Homo sapiens: one gene and its partners. The protein of the gene in region 3 purifies or fractionates together with the protein of the main gene of each other region. This does not show direct contact. Each region holds a gene or a part of one and is shown on either strand. Other genes may lie near its edges.

Evidence for each region. Proteins that work in one complex are often made in the same cells at the same time.
Region 1: the proteins of RBBP7 (region 3) and ARID4A purify together in Homo sapiens (affinity purification with mass spectrometry; 6 studies listed by BioGRID and IntAct, with this or other methods). This does not show direct contact.
Region 2: the proteins of RBBP7 (region 3) and BRMS1 purify together in Homo sapiens (affinity purification with mass spectrometry; 5 studies listed by BioGRID and IntAct, with this or other methods). This does not show direct contact.

Annotation. Positions count from the first base shown.
Region 1 is NC_000014.9:58,363,791-58,372,684, reverse strand, and holds part of ARID4A (AT-rich interactive domain-containing protein 4A), read right to left. Parts: intron 8,516-8,894; coding exon 7,385-8,515; intron 7,168-7,384; coding exon 7,063-7,167; intron 6,662-7,062; coding exon 6,455-6,661; intron 5,803-6,454; coding exon 5,656-5,802; intron 2,663-5,655; exon of another isoform or gene 2,605-2,662; intron 800-2,604; coding exon 696-799; 3' UTR 1-695.
Region 2 is NC_000011.10:66,340,975-66,350,701, forward strand, and holds the start of BRMS1 (breast cancer metastasis-suppressor 1), read right to left. Parts: upstream 4,131-9,727; 5' UTR 3,998-4,130; intron 1,268-3,997; 5' UTR 1,261-1,267; coding exon 1,122-1,260; intron 650-1,121; coding exon 559-649; intron 360-558; coding exon 232-359; intron 73-231; coding exon 1-72. Other genes in the region: B4GAT1 (beta-1,4-glucuronyltransferase 1), read right to left, coding at 5,075-5,266, 5,516-6,571. UniProt on the Homo sapiens protein: Transcriptional repressor. Down-regulates transcription activation by NF-kappa-B by promoting the deacetylation of RELA at 'Lys-310'. Promotes HDAC1 binding to promoter regions.
Region 3 is NC_000023.11:16,843,841-16,846,362, reverse strand, and holds the end of RBBP7 (histone-binding protein RBBP7), read left to right. Parts: intron 1-424; coding exon 425-535; intron 536-1,259; coding exon 1,260-1,328; 3' UTR 1,329-2,022; downstream 2,023-2,522. UniProt on the Homo sapiens protein: Core histone-binding subunit that may target chromatin remodeling factors, histone acetyltransferases and histone deacetylases to their histone substrates in a manner that is regulated by nucleosomal DNA.

The sequences.
Region 1 (8,894 bases), on a different chromosome or scaffold from region 3:
CACTGAAAACTTATTCACAATTCCACTGTAAACATTAATAAACATTAAAATATTTGCATAATTTTGTGCTCAAAAATCCTATAAAAAGTGGAAGACTTATTACAACTGTAGTTTTCAGTCAACTACACTTCCTTTCACAATTTATTTTGTCCCATTTACACCTTCAATCCTGGGCACACTGCTGAACATATACTTTGGCAGTTCTAAATAGCAAGTGCTTCCACAAAAATAAAAAAAACGATAATGAAAAAAAACACAACATAAACCCCCTACTCACCAAGTGTTCAAATACATCTTAGTGAAAGTGCAGCAGTAACTATTCAGCTGGGTAATATTTTGATGTTTATCATGTGCACTTGCTTGTCTACGATTTCTGTAACACCTGAAAGCTTTATTATACAAATTCAAATTTGCTAAGTGCCCTTTGTTCTATATCACAACAAACGAAAAACAAAAGTAAAGAGGAAAAATTATGACAAATATGGCAGGCTGCTTAACCTTCACTTATTAATCAGCTTATTTTTTGCAACAAGAAAAAAGAAGAGAGAGGGGAATAGATACAATCCAGCCTGGAAAAGTATACAGGATATACTTAGCAATGTCAAACCAGTTGAGTGCTTTCTGTGGTTGTAATTCAGGGTTTGGGGATTTATGTCCATGGCAGCAAACTGCTGGGAAGGTAGAGAAAATGTTTATCACCTGCATTCTACAGCAAGTACATTTTGTGGGGGAGATGATGATGAGGGACTCATTCCAGTGTCTGATGAAGCAGATGACATGGAGGCTCCCGCATGAGACACTGTGGAATCAAAACAACTATGTTAGATCCAAAAACTGTTACACAAAGATACCCAGCTAACAGCAAATTAGAAATAAAATTCTTAACATTATTCACCTTAATCACAGGCCTCTTATATGTCACATGAAGGAGTAACAAATTGTCAGCAAAAATTTTGTTTGGCTCAATTAAGTGGAGTTAGTCTTTGGTCAGTTAAGCACTACTCAACACTTAAAAATACATCATAAAATGTAAAGATTAAAGAGACAAAAACTCTTAAACCTCTAGTTGGGAGATCCCATGAAGGAACTTGGCTCAATCAGAAACAAGGTCAACCTGAGATAAACATGGAACCATATGGAATTTCTGCTTTATCTATGGGTCATAGGACCGTAAGAGAATTAATTTAACTCAGAGGATTTCCTCTGACAGGTATCAGAATCATGGAGATCAGGATCAAAGTAATGATGTGTGATAAGCAAAAAGTCCTCAAATGGTTTTAACATAATTTTCTCCAGGAGGACATAACACAGATTAGGGATCGGTACTCTGAGCATTAGGTGTTTTGCCACTTTTTAAGTTCTTTGCTTTTATCTTCTCTTTCCTTGCAATACTCTTGTCTTCTGCCTTTCTTTGCCTGATTGTTCCTATTTTATTTAAAATTTTAATTTTTGTTTATTCAAGTATCATGACAACCTCTGGGGCTCAAGCGACCCTCCTGCCTCAGCCTTCCAAGTAGCTAAGACATGCCACTGTACCCAGCTAATTTTTAAATTTTTTGTAGAGATGGGATTTCACTACGTTGCCCAGGCTGGTCTCAAACACCTGGACTCAAGTGATCTTCCTGCTCCAGCCTCCCAAAGTGCTGGAATTATAAGCGTGAGCCCCATGCCCAGGCAACAAATTCTTACATGTATGCTACAAATCACTCAAATCTCAATTTAATAACTCATTATAAAAACATAAGCAAATAAAAATGGGGAAAAGACTATAATAAGCTGGGCATGTTGGCTCATGCCTATAATCTCAGCACTTTGGGAGGCCAAAGCAAAAGGATTGCTTTAGAACAGGGGTTCCAGACCAGCCTGAGCCACATAGTGAGAATATGCCTCTACAAAAAAAACTAAAAAATTAGCTGGGTGTGGTGGCAGGCACTGTGGTACCAGCTACTCGGGAGGCTGAGGTGGGAGTCGCTTGAGCCCAAGAGTCTGAGGCTGCAGTAAGCCGTGATCATGCCACTGCACTCCAGTCTGGGTGCCAGAGCCTGTACCCCCCAACAACAAAAAAGACGGTAATAAAAAAATCTTTTTGGCTGGGCGCTGTGGCTCATGCCTGTAATTCCAGCACTTTGGGAGGACGAGGTGGGCAGATTACTTGGGATCAGGAGTTGGAGACCAGCCTGGTCAACATGGTGAAACCCTATCTCTACTAAAAATACAAAAATTAGCCAGGCATGGTGGCGGGCACCTGTAATCCCAGCTACCCGGGAGGCTGAGGCAGGAAAATGGCTTGAACCCGGGAGGCGGAGGCTGCAGTGAGCCAAGACTGTGCCATTGCACTCCAGCCTGGGCAACAAGAGTGAAACTCTGTCTCAACAAAAAGAAAATCTTTTTAATTGTCTGAAATGTATGTCACCTTTAGGAAACTGACCCCAGAGCAAGTGGTGGGTTCTTTGAAGAAATTTTAATTTGCTAATTTGTTCTTTTCTTCTTTTGATATTCAAAAGTTCTGTAAAGACTTCTTGCTATTTACAGTTTTTAAAAGAAAAGGATGAACATGAGAAGTCTGATCTCTTTCCATTTGCTCCATCCTGTTCCTATTTCTAGGAATTAAAAACTGCTGGACTTGGAGCACAATGGTCAAGGCCACACATGACACGTCACTCTACCACAAAGTCATCCACTAAATCTCTACTAGAGGCAGAAAACTTCTCTCAACATGATCAACCCTATCAGGTAATTTACCTTTTATTTGGTTTTTAAGAGACATCCCTTCTGGAGCTTTCCCCTCCTGTTCCATCCTACTCCTGGAATAGTTGCTTTCTAGGTCTGCTATGCAGTGGTCATCCTAGAGCTTCCATTCACCATCACCTTCAGATATTCCTTCACTATTTTCCTATGTAGGATTCCTTGTTTGCCAGTCCCATGTCTTCTTAGCTTGGCTTCTAGTTTCTAGTACTACCATTGAGAAATCGGATGTAAGACTCTTGATGCTGTTCTGAGATCCATTTCTTTTTATATATGTATCTTTATATGGTAAATTTTTAGAATCTACTTTTTTTTTTTTTTTTTTGAGACAGACTCTCACTCTGTCACCCAGGCTGGAGTGCACTGGCGCGATCTCGGTGCTCACTTCCGGGTTCAAGTGATCCTCAAGCCTCAGCCTCCTGAGTGGCTGGGATTACAGGCATCTGCCACCATGCGCAGCTGACTTTTGTAGTTTTAGTAGAGACAGGGTTTTGTCATGTTGGCCAGGTTGGTCTTAAACTCCTGGCCTCCAGTGATCTGCCTGCCTCTGCCTCCCAAAATGCTGGGATTACAGGCGTGAGCCGCTGTGCCAGGCCTAGAATCTACTCTTTATCCACAGGATTCTGAAATTTCATATGCTTTGGTGATTTTCACCCCCATTATTTATAGAGGGCACAGTGAGTCCTTTTCTAACTCATATCCTTCAGTTCTAGAATTTTAAAAATATCTTTGATGACAACTTCCTCTTGTTTATTCAACTCTCCTTCTAGAAATCCTATGATTCAGAAGTTGGATCTCCTCGCCAGATTCCATATTTCTCTTATTTCTTCTCTCCTATTGTCTTTTTGACCCTCTAGTGGAATTTCTTCAGCTTCACTGCCTTATTATTTTTTTTAAATTCCTGCTATCATATTTTAAAGATATCCTTCTTGTTCTCTGAATTTTTAAAATAGTTATTATGCTTTTGTTTCAAGGTGGCAATCTCTTTCCCTTTATCTCTGGATACAAATTGAACATCCCTAATCCAAAAATCCAAAATCTGAAACTTTTGAGCACCAACGTGGTGCCACAAGTGGAAAATTCCACACATAAGCACTTACCACAAACTTTGTTTCATGCACAAAATTATTTATATAAAATTACCTTCAGGCTATGTGTATAAAGTGTCTATGAAACATAAATGAATTTTGTGTTTAGACTTGGGTCCCATCACCAAGATATTTCATTATGTACAAATATTCCAAAATCTGAAAAAAATAAAAAACCCAAACACTTCTAGACCCAAGCATTTCAAATAAAGGATACTCAACTTGGATTAACTATTAAGAATAGTTTTGTCCTATTTTTTTTTTAATATGGTACATTATCTGTTTTTTTTCTTCCAGTTCCTTTTTATTCTCCTTTTTCTACTTTGGCTTCTGCCTTTATGTAGGGGCTTTCCTCAAATGTCTGGTCATGTGGCTTCCATATTTAACATTAAAAAGCTGACTGAAAGCTGTATATGAGCATCAGGGCTTTTAAATACAGAAAATGCACATGTAGTGATTGGCAAGGATCTTGATTTTTGTTTCAGGAACATCCAAATAGTAGGTAATTTTTCTTGGGCTGGTCATTTTCTTTAGAAGAATCTTCCAATCTCCTCCCAGGAATAAGCATAAGCTTGGCTGCCAGCTTTCAGGAAGCCAAGAGGATTAGGCCTTGAGTTAGAAGAGGGACAGCAATCTAACTATTCAGTATGCAAACTTTCACTCCATCCATTATTTTGGTTTAGCACTTAATCATTACCCTCAGCTGTGGCTGGTGCCCCCAAGTCTACAGGCCTACTGATTTCCTCATTCTCTTTTAAGTTAATCTATTTTCTGCTTGAGTTGGGGGTGAGGTAGACTTGCTTCACAGATGGGAAGAAGAGATCCAATTTCTCTTTCCATTTTCAACCAATCCCATTTTTCAGCATCGTCCCATATCCCTTCTGAAAGCTTTTCTGGGGTTACATGGTATTAATTGGCTTGCTTCTTGTTGTTTTGTCCCACTACAAGGACAAGCAAGCTTAGTTTCAGCATTATCTCATCTGCTGGGACAGTTACAGTAGTCCATCTGTTATGCAGCTTCCAAAAGATATACTGTTGACATTTCTTGTCTGTTGTGGTCATTCTCTTGTCCTTTTGAGTTTAGGGCTTTTAATTTCCTTTACTGTTATTTTAGCAGGGCTTAGGGATGGACTGTAGATGGACATGTTCATGTTTAACTGGAAGTCAATCCTACAACCCCCGAAGGGCTAGCTCAGACACTACTCCCTCTCTCTGACTACTCCAAAGTAACCTCTCCTTCCACTAACTCTTGTACTCGTTAATATCATTCTCAGGGTACACACTGTTCCACTAGATGTTAAGATCTTTGAGAAGAAAGTCTGTATCTAACTCATTTCTGTACTTCCGCCACCTGGCAGAGTGCCTGGCACATGGCATGTGCTCTTTAAAGTTGCTGAGCTGCACTATCTTATATTTTAGTTGCTTAGGAAATGATTTATAATCCCAACAAGATAATCTCCTTGAGAATAAGCCTTATGTCTCATTCATTTTGGTGAACCCCATAACAAATACAGTGCCTGTTAATAGATGCCAATAAATGTTTGAGCAAAGAGTGAATTTCAGAAGGACTATGCTCTACCTGAGAATCCATCACATTTAGTACAATCACCCATTTTGGAAAACAGTTCATACTCCCTTTTAAGGGTGTCATTCTGATTAACTCAGTTGCTGACCTACTCATTTCAACAATAGAAAACACTAGGAATTTAAAAACAGCAATTAATGAATGTGTACTATATTCAAAGAGTATCAAATTTAAATCTTCTAAAATGATAGGATATAGTTTTGAAATATAAGGGGAGAAAAATCATAATAAAATTACCTTCCCTGTCTTTCTTTTTTAATCTTTTTCTCCTCCTGTCTATGGTTGCAACTTCAGACTTCAAAGACATATAATATTTTCTGATTTCCTGTAGTTTTTCTTGGAGAAATGAGATTCTCTCTGTACTGTTCATATTATCTAATTCATCTAAAAGGGGGGAAAGAAGTTAATTTGGATTTTAAAATAATTCTGTGAGAAAAATGATGACAATTCTATCAAACGTCTAACTCATAAATCAACAAAAGCTTTAGTTTATTAAAATCTCCTACAGTAAGCTGAATAAGACTGAAAACAAGGAAGTCGTGAATTAAATTCATGATTAAGAATTATTTTTAGATCCCAAATTTTCTATACTAAACATTTATTACTTAAATGATCAGAAAAACATAAGAAAACATCAACACAAACTAACCCTGACCTATCTATAATTATAGTTATCAGAATAGTTTCCCTGTATTGACATTTTCTTCACTACTACTAGTTACATAATAGAAATAACTACTGGCTATTTCTAATTGTTAGTGCTACAAAGGGCACTTCAATTTCACTGATTTATATAAATCATACATGGCTTCTTAATGGAGACCTTCCTGTAAGTCAATATTTATCAAGTCAGTTTTATGAAAAGACACAGATTTATACTTAAGACAACATGTGGTGATTCTTGCTAAGGCAATATTTGGAATATCTAAATAGTTAATCATTATTCCTTATTTTATTAACATTAATCCAAGTTGATATTTTAAGATCTATTCCACTTTACAGTATTCATCTATCAAGTTTTCTATAAGCTTCTTACTGAGCTGAAAGCTCCATTTATATGTCCTAGGGGATGAATTCGGATGTTTTTCTCTGTGTTTATCTTTCTCTCCATCTTTGATGTGCGGGGATATTCTTGCAGGAGATCGTGCAAGTTTCTGTGGCTTAGATACATTAAGATGCTTTACTGGGGTACATTTACTTGAATTGTCTAGGACAGGAAGATCTTCACTATCACTGCTTTGTCCTATAAATAATAAAAAAGATTGACTCAGATTATAAATAAAATTCTTAAATATCAAAATGCAACAGACCTAACAATTACATTTCTTGGTATCCTACAGAAATAAGTGCACAAATGCACAAAGTTTATAACAATATAAAAACAACAAAAAAACAAAAAAACCTAAATGCTCACCAACGGGGAAATGGTTAAAAATGATAAACTATTGAATACTTTCCTAAAGTTGTTAAAAAGAATGAGCTAGAGTTCCTAAGAATAAAAATGGCAAAATATCTAGTATAATACTGTTAAATGAAAATGCAGTTATAAAACAATATAGTATTGCTCCATTTATGTTTAAAACAAGCCAACAAACTGCTAAAAATACTAACACTATACAAAAGCTAGCATTGAAAGACACCAACCTGTTCCATTCTTTTCATTTTTGGCTGCAGCACTTGTTCGCTTTGGGGTACGCTTTTGCTTTTTTGCCATTAATCCACTATTTCCATCACTTGGCCTCTTCTGACCTGAAATAAGGGGAAAGAGAGAATGTTGAAAAAAAAAAAAAAAAAAAAAAGAGCAAGTATATTATTCAACAGACTACACTGACATTTCTTTCTTTTTAATAAGAAAAGAAGAGAGAAAAGAAAAAGAAAGTACTTTACAGATCAACAGTACCTGAAACTCAACAGTTTTGATTTTTGGTTTCATATAAACACTTACTTTTCCCTAGAAAGTCCTTACCCTTCTCTCTGCTCTCTCTCTCTTGTACAATTATACTACAGGTACCAGAGGCAACATTAGTTTCAAATCCATTTGCCGATTCCCTCTCACAGAGACCTTCTTGAGATTCTTCAGCAATACTATCAACTTCAATCGTTATATCACTCTCACTTTTTACGCTTCGAGACTCATCTTGACTAAGAGTAAGTGGTGAAGCTACTGAAAAGTTATGTTGGACTACAGGAGGTAGGGCAGGTGGAATAGAAACAAGAGAGTTAGACTCAGAGCTTTCAACTGCTACATCCTCAATGCTGGTCTTATCCTTTTCATCCAAATCATCCAAATCTACTTCATGGCAAACCAAGGTTTCAGGCCCGATCAGAGGCATTGCATCCTCATCTTCTTTTAGTGGAATATTTACAGTTTCTTCAGCTGGACTATCAAATCTTTCACTAGTCAGTTGTTGGATGCATTGGTTTGACTCTGCTATCAATGATGGCATTCCTTCATTTTCTCTTTCAAAGTGCTGTTCAAAATTTAAGTTTTTCATTCCCTCAGATCCAATACAATCACTGGTCCTTTCTTGAGATACAGTATTTGTCATTTCCATTCCATTCTCAATTCTTATTTTTTTCTCTGGCGATGATTGTCCTAGTATTTTCCGTTTCAACTTCTTTTCTTTCACACATTGGTCAATTTCATCTTCTGTAGCAGAAGAAAAGTTTTTATTGTCTAATGAAGACAATTCAAGACTATGAGCTTCTATATGAGGTTCACTTCCTGCTTCATTCTGGCCAAATGATGAAATCTTTATAATTTCTAAAGAAAGATCTTTTGTCTTGCTTCGTCTTCCCTTTCCTTTTGGAGATTTTTCGGCTTCTTTCTTAACTTCTTCTGTTTTTTCCATTTTGTTCCCAAAAATCTGTACTATTTGTTCATTCTCTCCAACTTCTAACTTCAGGGTTTCTAAAGGCTGCATTTGAGTCCTATCATTTTCTTTTAATATATGTGCAGAAATCTTTGGATTTTCTTCATCTAGCTTATCATCATTCAAATTTTCATTTTTTTCTAGTTCATCTTTAAGAGAAAGTTCTTCATTTATTAAATTCTTTTCTAAAGCATCTTCTGTTTCACTATCAGATGAACAAGAGTCTGTAAGAGGAAATATTATTATATTATACAGGTTTTTATATTACCAATGTAATTTTACAATAAAAATCTTACCAAAAATAACAATAAAAATCTTTAATCATGTACCTCTGAATACCTCCCTGTAGAAATTTCTGAAATAAAACAAATCATAACATTTGTGCCAAGAATTTGAGGGGGAGGGGAAACTAAGCTCCAAGCAAAAATATATTACGTTGCATATTACTAACTCAAATCTATATGAAAAGCTATTTTGCAACATTCCCCAGTATCATATTTAGGTACAATAGTCCTTAAAAAAGATCAAAAGATTAGTACCTAGACATCCTAGACATGAAGTTAATTTGTTAAGTGGTTTGAGATAGTATCTAGGAAGGACAGA
Region 2 (9,727 bases), on a different chromosome or scaffold from region 3:
GCTGTTTGGCTCCCTGCAGCTCACATTCGTACTTATTCCTGATCACATCCAGACAGAAGCCCTTGTAGATCCCTGCAGAGAAAGGGAGGAGGGTCCCTGCTTGGCTGGGGAGCCCGGTGCCCACATAGGAGGGCTGAGAGCAAAGGGCAAGGCCGGGCAGGAACGAGAGAGGAAGGGGACAGGGTGCCACGGGTTCTGGGAGGGGAAGAGGGTACAGAACCACCCACAGACCTGCCACCTGAATGCGAATCTTGAGGCTCCGCTGCAGCCCCCCAAGGGGCTCCGTGTATTCAGGGGCTCTCTCAGCCCCCACTTCCTCCAGCCGCAACCGCAGCTGACTCAGTCGTTCCCTGAACAACCTGCGTGGTAAAAAGGCAGCCGTGCACCCATTTGCTCACCCATCGCTCTTGGGCAAACACATACCCAGCACCCATTCCACAGCAAGCCCGGTGTTAGGCGCGCACTTCCTGGGCACCAACCACGCCTGCCCAGTACCAGGCCCACCACCTCCTCATCCCAGATCCTCGCAGACCCAGCCCAAGGTGTCCCCACGCTCACTTCTCCTTTAGCTCCGAGAACTGCTTCTCTAGGTCCAGCATCTCACTGACACACTCGCTGCGGCGTCGCTCATAGTCCTCATCATCCATCTCTGGGACAAGAGGCCAGTAAGGGCTAGCTCTGGGGAGGAGTGGTGGGTACCCGCATGTGTGCATGTGCGTCCTGCATGTGTGTGTGTGCATGCATGCCTGTGTGTAGGGCCTGTGTGTGTGTGCGCGTACATGCTTGTGTGAAGGGGCTGTGTGTGTGCGTGTGTGCTTGTGTGTAGGGGCTGTGTGTGCATATGCGTGCGTGCTTGTGTGAAGGGGCTGTGTGCACGTGTACTTGTGTGAAGGGGCTGTGTGTGTGCATACGTGCTTGTGTGTAGGGGCTGTGTGTGCGTGCTTGTGTGTAGGGGCTGTGTGTGCGTGTGTGCGCTTGTGTGCAGGGTCTGTGTATGTGCTTGTGTGTAGGCGCTGTATGTGCATGTGCGTGCATGCTTGTGTGTAGGGGCTGTGTGTGTGCATGTGTGTGTGTAGGGGCTCTGTGTGTGTGTGTGTGTGTCTGTGTGTGTAGGGGCTCACCGGAGCTCTCCTCTTCTGACTCTGTCTGGCTGCCGCTCCGCTCCTCCTCACTCTCTTCCTCCTCCCCATTCATCTCAGCAGCAGAATCACCCTCTGCTTCCATCTCTTCTGTGTCTTTGCTTGGAGGCTGGACAGGCATCTGGACTCTGGGAGAAGGAATGGAGCTATCACTTATGGCTGCCCACAGCTCAGAGGGGGAAAGAGGCAGCAGGATGCTGAACACAACTCGATCCCAGATGGGGAAAGCCAGGGAAGTAACTGGCCTGGCCACACCTTGAGCACAAACTGGGTGACAAGGGTGCAAATGGCCATCTGCACCTCTCACAGAAGGCTGGGAGCTGTGGAACTGCTCCTGCTCTTGGATGTCACTGGTGATCCTAATCCTAGCAATACTGGCCAAGGCTGTGATCCACAGAAAGGAAAGGCCCAGGGGGCACTCTCCACTGCCTTTGCAACTGGACCTAAATTTCTTTTCTTCTTATTATTTTTTGAGACAGAGTCTCGCTCTGTTGACAAGCTGGAGTGCAGTGGCACGATCTCAGCTCACTGCAACCTCCTCCTCCTGGGTTCAAGCGATTCTCCTGCCTCAGCCTCCTGAGTAGTGAGATTACAGGCGCCCGCACCACACCCAAACTGGACCTAAATTTCTAACTGGGGCTTTCAAGGTCTTTCCCAGACTGGACTTGACCTACCGGTCCAGCTCCTTCATCCCAACATATAATGGCTAGTGCTTGCACTTCCACTATCCACCCTCTGCCTCAGCTGTTCCTTCTGCCTATAATGTCCTCGGCTTCTCTTCCAGATAATGTTACAATCTCCTTGTCTTTCATTGTGCTCTGGGTCAAATCCCATCTCCTTCTGCTTCCTCTTGGACCGCAGGTCATCAGTGCTCCCCTCTCTTTTCTGTGTCTTCAGCTTCTAACTCTTAGCAACCTCCTTCCCATGAAACTTTGGATGTGCTTGGGTACTTCCTAGCATTAACAAAACACAGAAACACAAAACCTCACCCATTCCACCTAACTGCTCCATTTGCCACTTCACAGTTACACTTTTCAAGGTCTCATGAACACTGGCTGTTCCTACTTTCACCTCCCACTTGTTCGATGTCCTCAATCTCAGCTGAAACTGATCCCGTAGCATTAACCAATGACTTCCTTGTGGCTAATGCCAATATTTTTCAGTGCTTATTTTAATTGTCTGCTCGGCAACATCCAACACTGGTAAGCATTCCTTCTTTTACTGACTCATCTAACATGTATTGAACATCTAACATATGCTAGGTACCGTCAGACGCTATGGTATGCAGGCGCCCAAGTGTGAATGTCTTTGACCTCACGGAGTTTACAAGTTCCTGGGAGACAGGGGCAAAGGAGCACACTATAACCATGATAGGAGGAGAGTTAAGACCAGGGGCATAAGGGAGGGGTATATAACCAGGACCTGGAGCCCGATGCAGCAGGGAGGCTTCCAGACAAAGATGGACCAGCTGGGTGAGCTGCACTTATTGAGGGAACATTCCAGGTAGAGTCAGTAGCAAAGACCCAGAAATAAGAGAAGGAAAGCAGCTGGGGGAACATGGGTCTAAGTCTCAGTGAGAAATCTGAGCTGCAGGGATTTGGTCGTCAGCATACAGCAAGTTCTTCATGCCACAGGAGAAGGTGCAACCAGCAAGGCACAATGTGTGCGATCAGAAGACGCCCAGGGTCACCAAAGGGGCAGATGAGGAGACCCCTACAAAGGAGGAGGCAAAACCCGAAGTGGTGGAGAAAGAGTTTTAGAAGAAAGCCAAGTACTGCCAAGGAGTAATTGCACTGATAGTGCCAAGTACTGCCAAGAGATCACCTAAGAAGAAGAAAACAGTCCTCTCAGCAGATAATCTCTCAACCTCCTGCAGGCTTCTATTTTATTGTGTTCTTCCAACTTCTCTGGACACTGCTTTGTAGTCCTTTAGAACAGTGCAGACACCACTCCCTCCAGGAAGCTTTGTTTATATCTATTTGCCTGTTCTCATATCTGTCCCCGCAATCAGTCTATGAGCCTCACTAGGGCAGGGGCTGCACATGTAACTTATTTACCTAGCACAGTGCTGGTTCACTTGATGACTGGAGGATTTGCAAATACAAATTTAACAAAAAAATTTTTTGTGAGACAGACATTAGTTTTTACTTTTCGGTAGTCCCAGGTCCCTGTAATGGTAGCAAGCTTTCCTTGACACCAGTTCAAGTTGTGTATAGTAAGCCTGGCCTAGGTGAGTGTTTAGTCATATTCCTCAACAATTTCACTAATGACCTGCACCTGACTTGAAAGGCTCGGTTCTCTAAACCAGCTTCATCTTCCCGTTATCAAGCCTCAGTTCCCAACATTTGCAATGCCTCTTCACTGTTAGTATATTCACTTTGTAAGATGCAGCTTAAGTCTATCTCTTCCAGAAGCCTTTCTTTCCTCCCCCTGGTTCTGATTATGAGTGAGTTAAGTCACAACCTTCCCACCTTACCCCGGGTGCAAAAAGCGGATAACCATTCCTGCTCTGAGTGTTGAGGAGCTCACAGGTGGTAAGGGATGGAAAAGCACACTGTAAAGCGCTGTACACAGGCAATTTATCTTTTCAGAATGGCAGCTCCTCCGGGGCAGGCCCCTAGGGAAGGCAGACCCTCCCCACTCTCGCAGAGGTCAATCCAGCTTCTCCGCAGCGCCCAGGGGGCCTCCCGCTCCCTTCTAGATGCGCCGGAGCGGGCCGGAATATCACTGGCTCGCCCGCAGCCCAGCACGCGTCAGGCCGGTTAAATCTCTGCTTCGGCCTCGGAGGAGGAGGTTGTGCCGGCCCTGCTCGACTAACCGGAGAGGGCGAACCAAAAGCCATGCATGACGATACGCACCGCGGGGACTGGAGCCTCTGGCCTCACGACGGAGATTCCCTGAGAGCTGCCCGTGGTTGCCGGTACCGGCTGCTGCCGCCGGACTCCCGTAGGCGCTGCGCGGCTCCCTTTTCTTCGGGAGGCAGAGCCTATCGGTGCTTCCGTGTGCGTCATCAGGAGGCGACCGTCGGGGATGCTCACAGTTGGACAGTTTGGTCCCGAGGCATGCTGGGATACCGCGGGCCGGTCTCCATAGTAACTGGCCGACATTCGCGCAGGCCTTCGGCCTGCAGGGAAGGCCCTGATGGTTCAGTGCTTTGCAGACGGTGCCCTTCGTCCGCGGCCATCTCCCCACGGCGTGCAAGGGGAGAAGCCGGCCCCGATCCCCCCACCCCCAGCTCAGGAGAGTAACGGAGCCAGCTGTGGGTGTGAACACGCATTTATTTACACATTGTCATCGGTAGGCACATACCCAGCCCAGCCCGTTGAAGGGACAGATCTCAGGCTGTCACCCATGGAACCTGCAGACCCTTCCCTCCTCCAGAACCCTTGAAGGCGAAGCCCTGAGAGAACCAGGAATTTTAGGCTTCTGTTCAAGAGCTAAGAACTAAATTTTATGCCTTCATCTGATTTCTTTCCAAAAAGTCCATTTCATTAAGTATTCAGACTTCTTAGCTCCATCCCATTCATACTTTTTGCTCTCCTACTACCCACCCAAGATTGTTAATAATAACAATAATAATAACAACAATAATACTGCGATAATATTAATACTTCACATTTGTACGAAGCTTACAGAATGTTTTCACATATAGCATCTCATCTGAGCCTCCCAACAGTTCCGTGAGGTAGGTATTCTCACCTCCCTTTTTACAGACAGGGTAACCGAGGCTCAGAGAGGTAACGGGATTTACTCAAGGCCACACAGCTAGTTAGTGGTAAAGCTAGGAATCGATCCCAGCACCCCATATCCAAGTCCAGTGTTTCAACACCACAGCTACCTCTGTAAAGTGGAGCGACATTTCTTACCCCAGTCAGGCCTAAATGGTGGCCTGAGGAGCCAAGAGGCTGACTTCTCAGATTAGGGGAGGGAAGGGCTCAGCAGCGTCGGGGAGAGTTGGGGTACTTGGCCTTCAACTCCTGTTTGAACTGGCGATATAGGATCTTATTGTGCTGATTTTCAGCCTCCTTTTGGGGATGGAACTTCAACGCTTCTTTGAAGCCCTTATGAACCAAGAAACCTTCGTTCAGGACCTCAAAATCAAACCCCGCCACATGCAGCTCGCAGGCCTGCAGGAGGAAAGACAGGTTAGCAAAGTTTGATGACATTGACAGGCCTGAGACTGACTTCCCTAAAGCCACAGTCCAGCGTCCTCACCCCTCTGGAAGTATCCTGGATCTTCCACACCATCCACCCACCTCCTGAACTATGATCCCTCCTGCTTCATTGCCTCCTTTCCATCCAGGGCCACTCCTCATAACTCCCTGATCCCACCACCCCTCCTGCCCCATTACCCCTGCCCTCTCCCTTATGAGCACCTGGCTGATTCGGTTGAAGCCGTACTGCCGAAAGCGCTCGTCGAAGGTGGGCACCTTGCCTCCTGCCACGTAGAATGGCTCCCAGGGGTCCTGCCAAGGTACCACGTAGGCGGGCCGCAGCAAGCTCTCTTCCGGCAGGTTGACCCAGCGGGAATAGTTGGTGGGTGCCTGGCAGGGGGTGCACAACCCATAATAGAAGGGCCGCACCTCGCCAACCTGGTAGAGCTGCACCAGCTCGTTTTTGTTCATGGGCATGCGGCGGGCTCTTCGGATTTCGAAGGCAGGCACCACCAGCGCGGTGCCTCCCCACTGGTTGCTCTGATCCAGCATTTCCCGCAGGCCTCTCCACAGCCCCTCGCTGGGCACCATGTCCACATCGATCACCAGGGCATAGTTGGCCCCCTCACGAGCCAGATTCCTCAGCAGGTTATTGGGGTAGGAGACATTGGTGCCCAGCGCATAATTAATCCCGGGCTGGGCCACCCTGGCTAGCTTGTCAAAGACCTCCTGGCAGGACCGCAGCAGGGCAAACTCCCCCGGCTCCCGGGGGTCGGGCACGGCTGCCTCGTAACGCGAGGGGCACACGAGGTGCATGGCGACCCTGGCGCGCATGTCGGGGCAGTGGCTGCTCAGCGCGTAGGCCAGCACCGTGGCCAGCTGCGCCTCCTCCTTGGTGGCCGCGAACACCGACACGGACAGCGGGCCCTCCCAGCGCTCCAGCAGACCCGACAGGTGCAGCAGGTTGTCCACGCTGGCGTGCGTGGCCAGGATCACATCGTTGGGGTCCATGGTGGTCTTCAGCAGGCCCCTGTAGACGCGGTAATCGCCGCTAGCGTCCAGGACGCCTCCAGAGGCCAGCGCGGTGCGGAGCTGCGCCTTGACCTGGTCCACGGACCGTGGGGACGGGGGAAAGAACTCAAAATATTGGTCTTGCTCCTCCTGCCCGTGCAGTCCGGACAGCAGCGACAGGTAGAGCAGCTGCAGCATCGCCACCAGCATGAGCGCGGCCAGCAGCAGCTGGTAGAAGGCGCACCGGATGGCGTAGGACATCTGCATGGCTCTCGGGGCTCGGGGCGCGCAGCAACGACCACCCGGCCACAGACTACGCCAGCGGCCGCAAGCCCGGATTTACCGCAGCCTGCCGAGCGCAGCCGAGGCGAGCCGAGGCCAGCCGAGCCCCGAGCGCCGCCCCGCCCGCCGCCCGCCGCCCGCCGCCCGCCGCCCGCCACCGCCCCCAGCCCCCGGCGCGCCGGCTCGCCCCCTACGAGGGAGGAGGAGCCACGGCCCCGCCGCTCGGCCGCGCGCCGTGCAGACGCCCGCCCGCCCGGGCCCCGCCGGCTTCCCGGGACGCACTCCTCTCCCTCCCCGCCGGCGCGCGCACCCTGGACCGGGCGCGCCCTGAACGCGCGGCGCGCTCGGCCGGACTCGGAGGGAAACCGCGGCAGAGCTCGGCTGCAGCGTGGTAAAGGATGGCGCGGGCTCAGCAGAAAGGAAATCAAAACGCTCCCTTCCTTCCGCGGCTTCTTCTTTCCCTGTGTCCGAAGAGGTCTGCGTTGCGACTTACGTGGTAGTGCTTGGAAGGTGCGGAGTAGATGAGAGATAAGTGAATGTGGACAAACCTGTCACGTAGGACGAGGTGGCCGAGTGGTTAAGGCGATGGACTGCTAATCCATTGTGCTTTGCACGCGTGGGTTCGAATCCCATCCTCGTCGGCCCTGTTTTATAGAGGTTGGGGGGGAAGCATCTACATTTTCACATCCTGCCTATTTGGAGCAGCAAGCTGGAGGTGCGAGGGGTGAGGCATCTAAATTTTCACATCCTGCCTGTGGAGCAGCAAGCTGAAGAAAACTGAACTGGGGGTGAGAGTGGAATTCGATCCCAAGTCTCTCTGGTCTTTATCCACCACGCATCTCCTGCCTGCTCCTACTTCAGGTGTCTGTAGCTCTGGGCAGAGGCCAAAGGTGTTTTCTTTCCTTCTAGAAAGAGGGCCCAGGGGTTGGTGGCACGGAAAAGACTAGAACCGGGATTCTGGCCAGTGTGAAGTTGGGGGCCAACGTATGATCTGCAGGAATCAGGGAAGCCCCCCATTGGAGGCATCGCCCTCCCCGTCCGAAGTAGTGGTACTTGTCCTACTCTCCAGCACTTCTCCTAGGGCGGAGACCTTGTGTCCACATGCCCTGCTCCCCAACACACACAATCTCTTTTTTTTTTTTTTTTTTTTTTTTTGAGGCGGATTCTCGCTCTGTCGCCCAGGCTGGAGCGCAGTGGCGCGATCTCGGCTCACTGCAACCTCTGCCTTCCAGGTTCAAGCGATTCTCCTGCCTCAGCCCCGAGTAGCTGGGACTACTAGCGCATGCAGCACGCCCGGCTAATTTTTTGTATTTTTAGCAGAGACGGAGTTTCACCGTGTTAGCCAGGATGGTCTCGGATCTCCTGACCTCCTGATCCGCCCACCTCGGCCTCCCAAAGTGCTGGGATTACAGGTGTGAGCCACCGCGCCCGGCCGCACACAAACTCTTAAGCAGAAGGCTTTGAACATTCCAATATCAGGCCACTATACTCTTAATAAGTATTTGTGGATTAATTCATCTGTGGACTCTTTAGAACAGGAGAGGCCGTGGGAAGGGCAGACACTGCCACTGCTAAATCAATTACCGTATATTACTCAACTTTTTAGGCTGAGCCAGGGAGGCCCCTATAGGGCAGAGTGCTCTGAATCTTGGGATGTCAGGACAGACTGGGCAGGGCTTCAAATAAGGATAAAGTGTTTGTCCCACTATTCCACAGGCAGTAGGGTGCCAAGGTTGTTGAGTTGAAGAGTGATCAGAAAACCTTTATTTTGCAGCCCAGAGCAAAAACACACACTGAGTACCTGGTCTCTGCCAGGAACTGTGTTAGGCACGAGGGATGGGCCTTGGAGGAGACACAGGTATTGTCCTTGAGAGTTTCCACTGGTGACCTTGGCTGTAAAGAGGAGAAAAGTAAGTGCAGATCCTTTCAGCACAGGCCTTATAGACTGGAGGCTCAGAAGTCAGACATGCTGCCATGTGGATTTTCTTTGACCTCCTCAGTGTTTTATTTTTTATTTATTATTATTATTATTATTTGAGACAGAATTTTGTTCTTCTTGCTCAGGCTGGAGTGCAATGACGCGATCTTGGCTCACTGCAACCTTGCCTCCTAGGTTCAAGTGATTCTCCTGCCTCAGCCTCCTGAGTAGCTGGGATTACAGGAGTGCACCACCATGCCTGGCTAATTTTTTGTATTATTTTTTAGTAGAGATGGGGTTTCATCATGTTAGCCAGGCTGGTCTCGAACTCCTAACTTCAGGTGATCCACTCACCTTGGCCTCCCAAAGTGTTGGGATTACAGGTGTGAGCCACTGCGCCCAGCCCTATTATTATTATTATTATTTTGAGACAGAGTTTCGCTCTTGTTGCCCAGGCTGGAGTGCAATGGCTCAATCTCGGCTCACTGCAACCTCTGCCTCCTGGGTTCAAGTGATTCTCCTGCCTCAGCCTCCGGAGTAGCTGGGATTACAGGCATGTACCACCATGCCCAGCTAATTTTGTATTTTTAGTAGACTAGGGTTTCTCCATGTTAGTCAGGCTGGTCTCGAACTCCCGACCTCAGGTGATCTGCCCACCTCGGCCTCCCAAAGTGCTGGGATTACAGGAGTGAGCTACCAAGCTCAGCCAGTGTTTGTATTTTCAGTGGACAAGTTTTTTACTTCCTGGGTTAATTTTTTCCTAGGTATTTTATTCTTTTGTATCCTATTGTAAATGGAGTTGTTTTCTTAATTTCCTTTTCACGTTGTTCATTGTTAGTGTATAGAAATATAACTGAATTTTTGTTGTTGTTGTTGTTGTTTTGAGATGGAGTTTCGCCCTTTCACCCAGGCTCGAGTGAAGTGGCGCGATCTTGGCTGACTGCAACGTCTGCCCCCCGGGTTCAAGCAATTCTCCAGCTTCAACCTCCCGAGTAGCTGGGACTACAGGTGCATGCCACCACACCCGGCTAATTTTTGTATTTTTAGTAGAGACGGGGTTTTGCCATGTTGGCTAGGCTGGTTTCAAACTCCTGACCTCAGGTGATCCACCTGCCTCAGCGTCACAAAGTGGTAGGATTACAGGCATGAGCCACTGTGCCCAACCAGAATTTTGTGTGTTAACTTTTTTTTTTTTTTTTTGAGGCAGAGTCTCACTCTGTCTC
Region 3 (2,522 bases):
TTACCTTAGATGTTTGCACCTAACTGTATATGAGCAAATGATGCTGGATTAATGTTCATCATAATCAGTATGGAAATGGCATTTTGACTAGGAAAATGTCCTCATTCTTAAGGGATGCAGGCTGAAGTCTTCAGCCATTTCATTGTATAGGCTCATGGATAAAGCATCAGTTATGCTAGTATCACTTGGTGAATCTAGGTAAAGGGTATACAGGTATCCATTGTACTATATTCTGTCACCTATTCTGGAGGTTTGGAAATTTGCAAAATAAGTATAAATAGATTACTGAGCCTGTACCACCTTCTAAAACCAGACAGCACCCACCCCCAGTTGAAATACTGATAGCTCTAAAAACTTAGTAAAACCTTTGTTAGGATTAACAGGAGAGTATATGAAATCAAAGCTTTTTTTGTTCTTGTAACAGTTTATTCATGGAGGACACACTGCTAAGATTTCAGATTTTAGCTGGAACCCCAATGAGCCTTGGGTCATTTGCTCAGTGTCTGAGGATAACATCATGCAGATATGGCAAATGGTGAGTTAAAATGTTTTTCTTGAATGACTGTCTTGTAAAGGAGAGATTTACTACTTACATAATGTAATAAAGTTATTTCGAATATGTAGGTGCATATTATGCCAAACATTTACAGAAACCGTTTAAAAGAACTTTTTCCATTTCAACAATACAATCTTTAGTCCCATATGGTGCTTCGTCCACTGTTTGCTATTTGTAGCACCTGTCAGGTCAGGAGAAATCTCTGCATCTGCACTGATTTTCATTGTTGTTGTGCTCTTCATACACTGGAGTCTTGGCGTCGCTACTCTGTCTCCAGTGTCTGTTCTGTGTGGTAGGCATGAGGGATACAGGAAGGAGAGGTCAAGGCATTCAAATGACAGCAAGTTCTCTGAGGATGAGCACTAAGTAGCTGACATTTCTAAGTTGTTGTTAACCGAGACTTCCATAACATCTGGGCTACCACTTCCTCTAAACGATGCTTGAAGTGCCTTTGGAAAACATCTCTTATGAACAGTGATTGAAATAAGTAGTGCATCGATGGGTGGCTAAGTATACATACGGAATTACACACTGGCAAAGAATTTTTCAAAATACTGGCTAGCCTACCATTTCCTTATTGAAGTTTTTAAGAGAGAAATGTAAAAATGAAACTATTAAGTTCTAAATAGATTAAATTGTTTTTACATGACCATGTGAAAACCATAGGGAGTTTTTACCTGTGAATTTATTTGGTTATCTCCAGGCTGAAAATATTTACAATGATGAAGAGTCAGATGTCACGACATCCGAACTGGAGGGACAAGGATCTTAAACCCAAAGTACGAGAAATGTTTCTGTTGAATGTAATGCTACATGAATGCTTGATTTATCAAGCGCCAAAAAGGCATTGTATAGTAGGAAATGTAAGTGGGGTGGCTTATGGCTTCTTTATCCTCTGATTCTAGCACTTTCAAGTGAGCTGTTGCGTACTGTATCATATTGTAGCTATTAGGGAAGAGAAGAATGTTGCTTAAGAAAGAACATCACCATTGATTTTAAATACAAGTAGCAGGGTATTGCCTTTGATTCAACTGTTTTAAGTCCTCATTTTCTCAAACTAAGTGCTTGCTGTTCCCAAATATGCAAGAATAACTTTTACACTTTTTCCTTCCAACACTTCTTGATTGGCTTTGCAGAAATAAAGTTTTAAAATAAAACTTGTGTTTTTTTAAAAGCTTAGTGGGGGGGGGCGGGGGAGTCTACTTTTTGAGTAGAAATGGGTAAAATGGTACCTTTGGACTCCTACAGTTAAGGTCACATGGATAATGAAAGAATACACAGAAGCTGTTAAGTTTATCATACATATTTACTTAATCTATACAGAATCAAGTAGATAAAATCAGATTCACATTAGTGAAAAATCTCTACAAAATGTCTTTGAAAAGCAAAACGAGACTGCCTCTTAACAATTCGTATCCTCATGAAAGACGTGGGCTGTAAAAATAAAGCAGTGTGTTTAGCACAAACTAGAAGATATCTGCATCATTTTTTTCACAGTTATTTCCATCTACAGTCTGAAAGAGGTAGATTTTTCTGCAACACCTGAGAATTGAATTGTGATAACCAGGTGTAATAAAGGCAGTTGCATACATAACTGAAAAATACTGGTCTCAAGACCAAGAAATGTACTCCTAACAAGTCTGAGGATGAAATGGTCCATATTACCCAAGACCCAAGTTTTCTCTACACCTTGGAGTCCACCGCCAATATAAATAATACACATCACGATTCCATGATGGTGCAACAATTGCAATTTAAGTGAATTCAACATTTAAACCTTTTCTGGGCCAGCCTAGTAGCATTACAGTGTTCTAGAATATGGTAGATACGGGGTGCGCTACAAAGCCACAACACTGGGCTGGTGAGGTGATCACTGTAGGAAGATGTCCTTCTCAGGGGGTCCCATTTGTTTTTATTCACAGGGTAATGGGAGGAAGGGTTCTGAAAGGACAACAAATGCATCCCA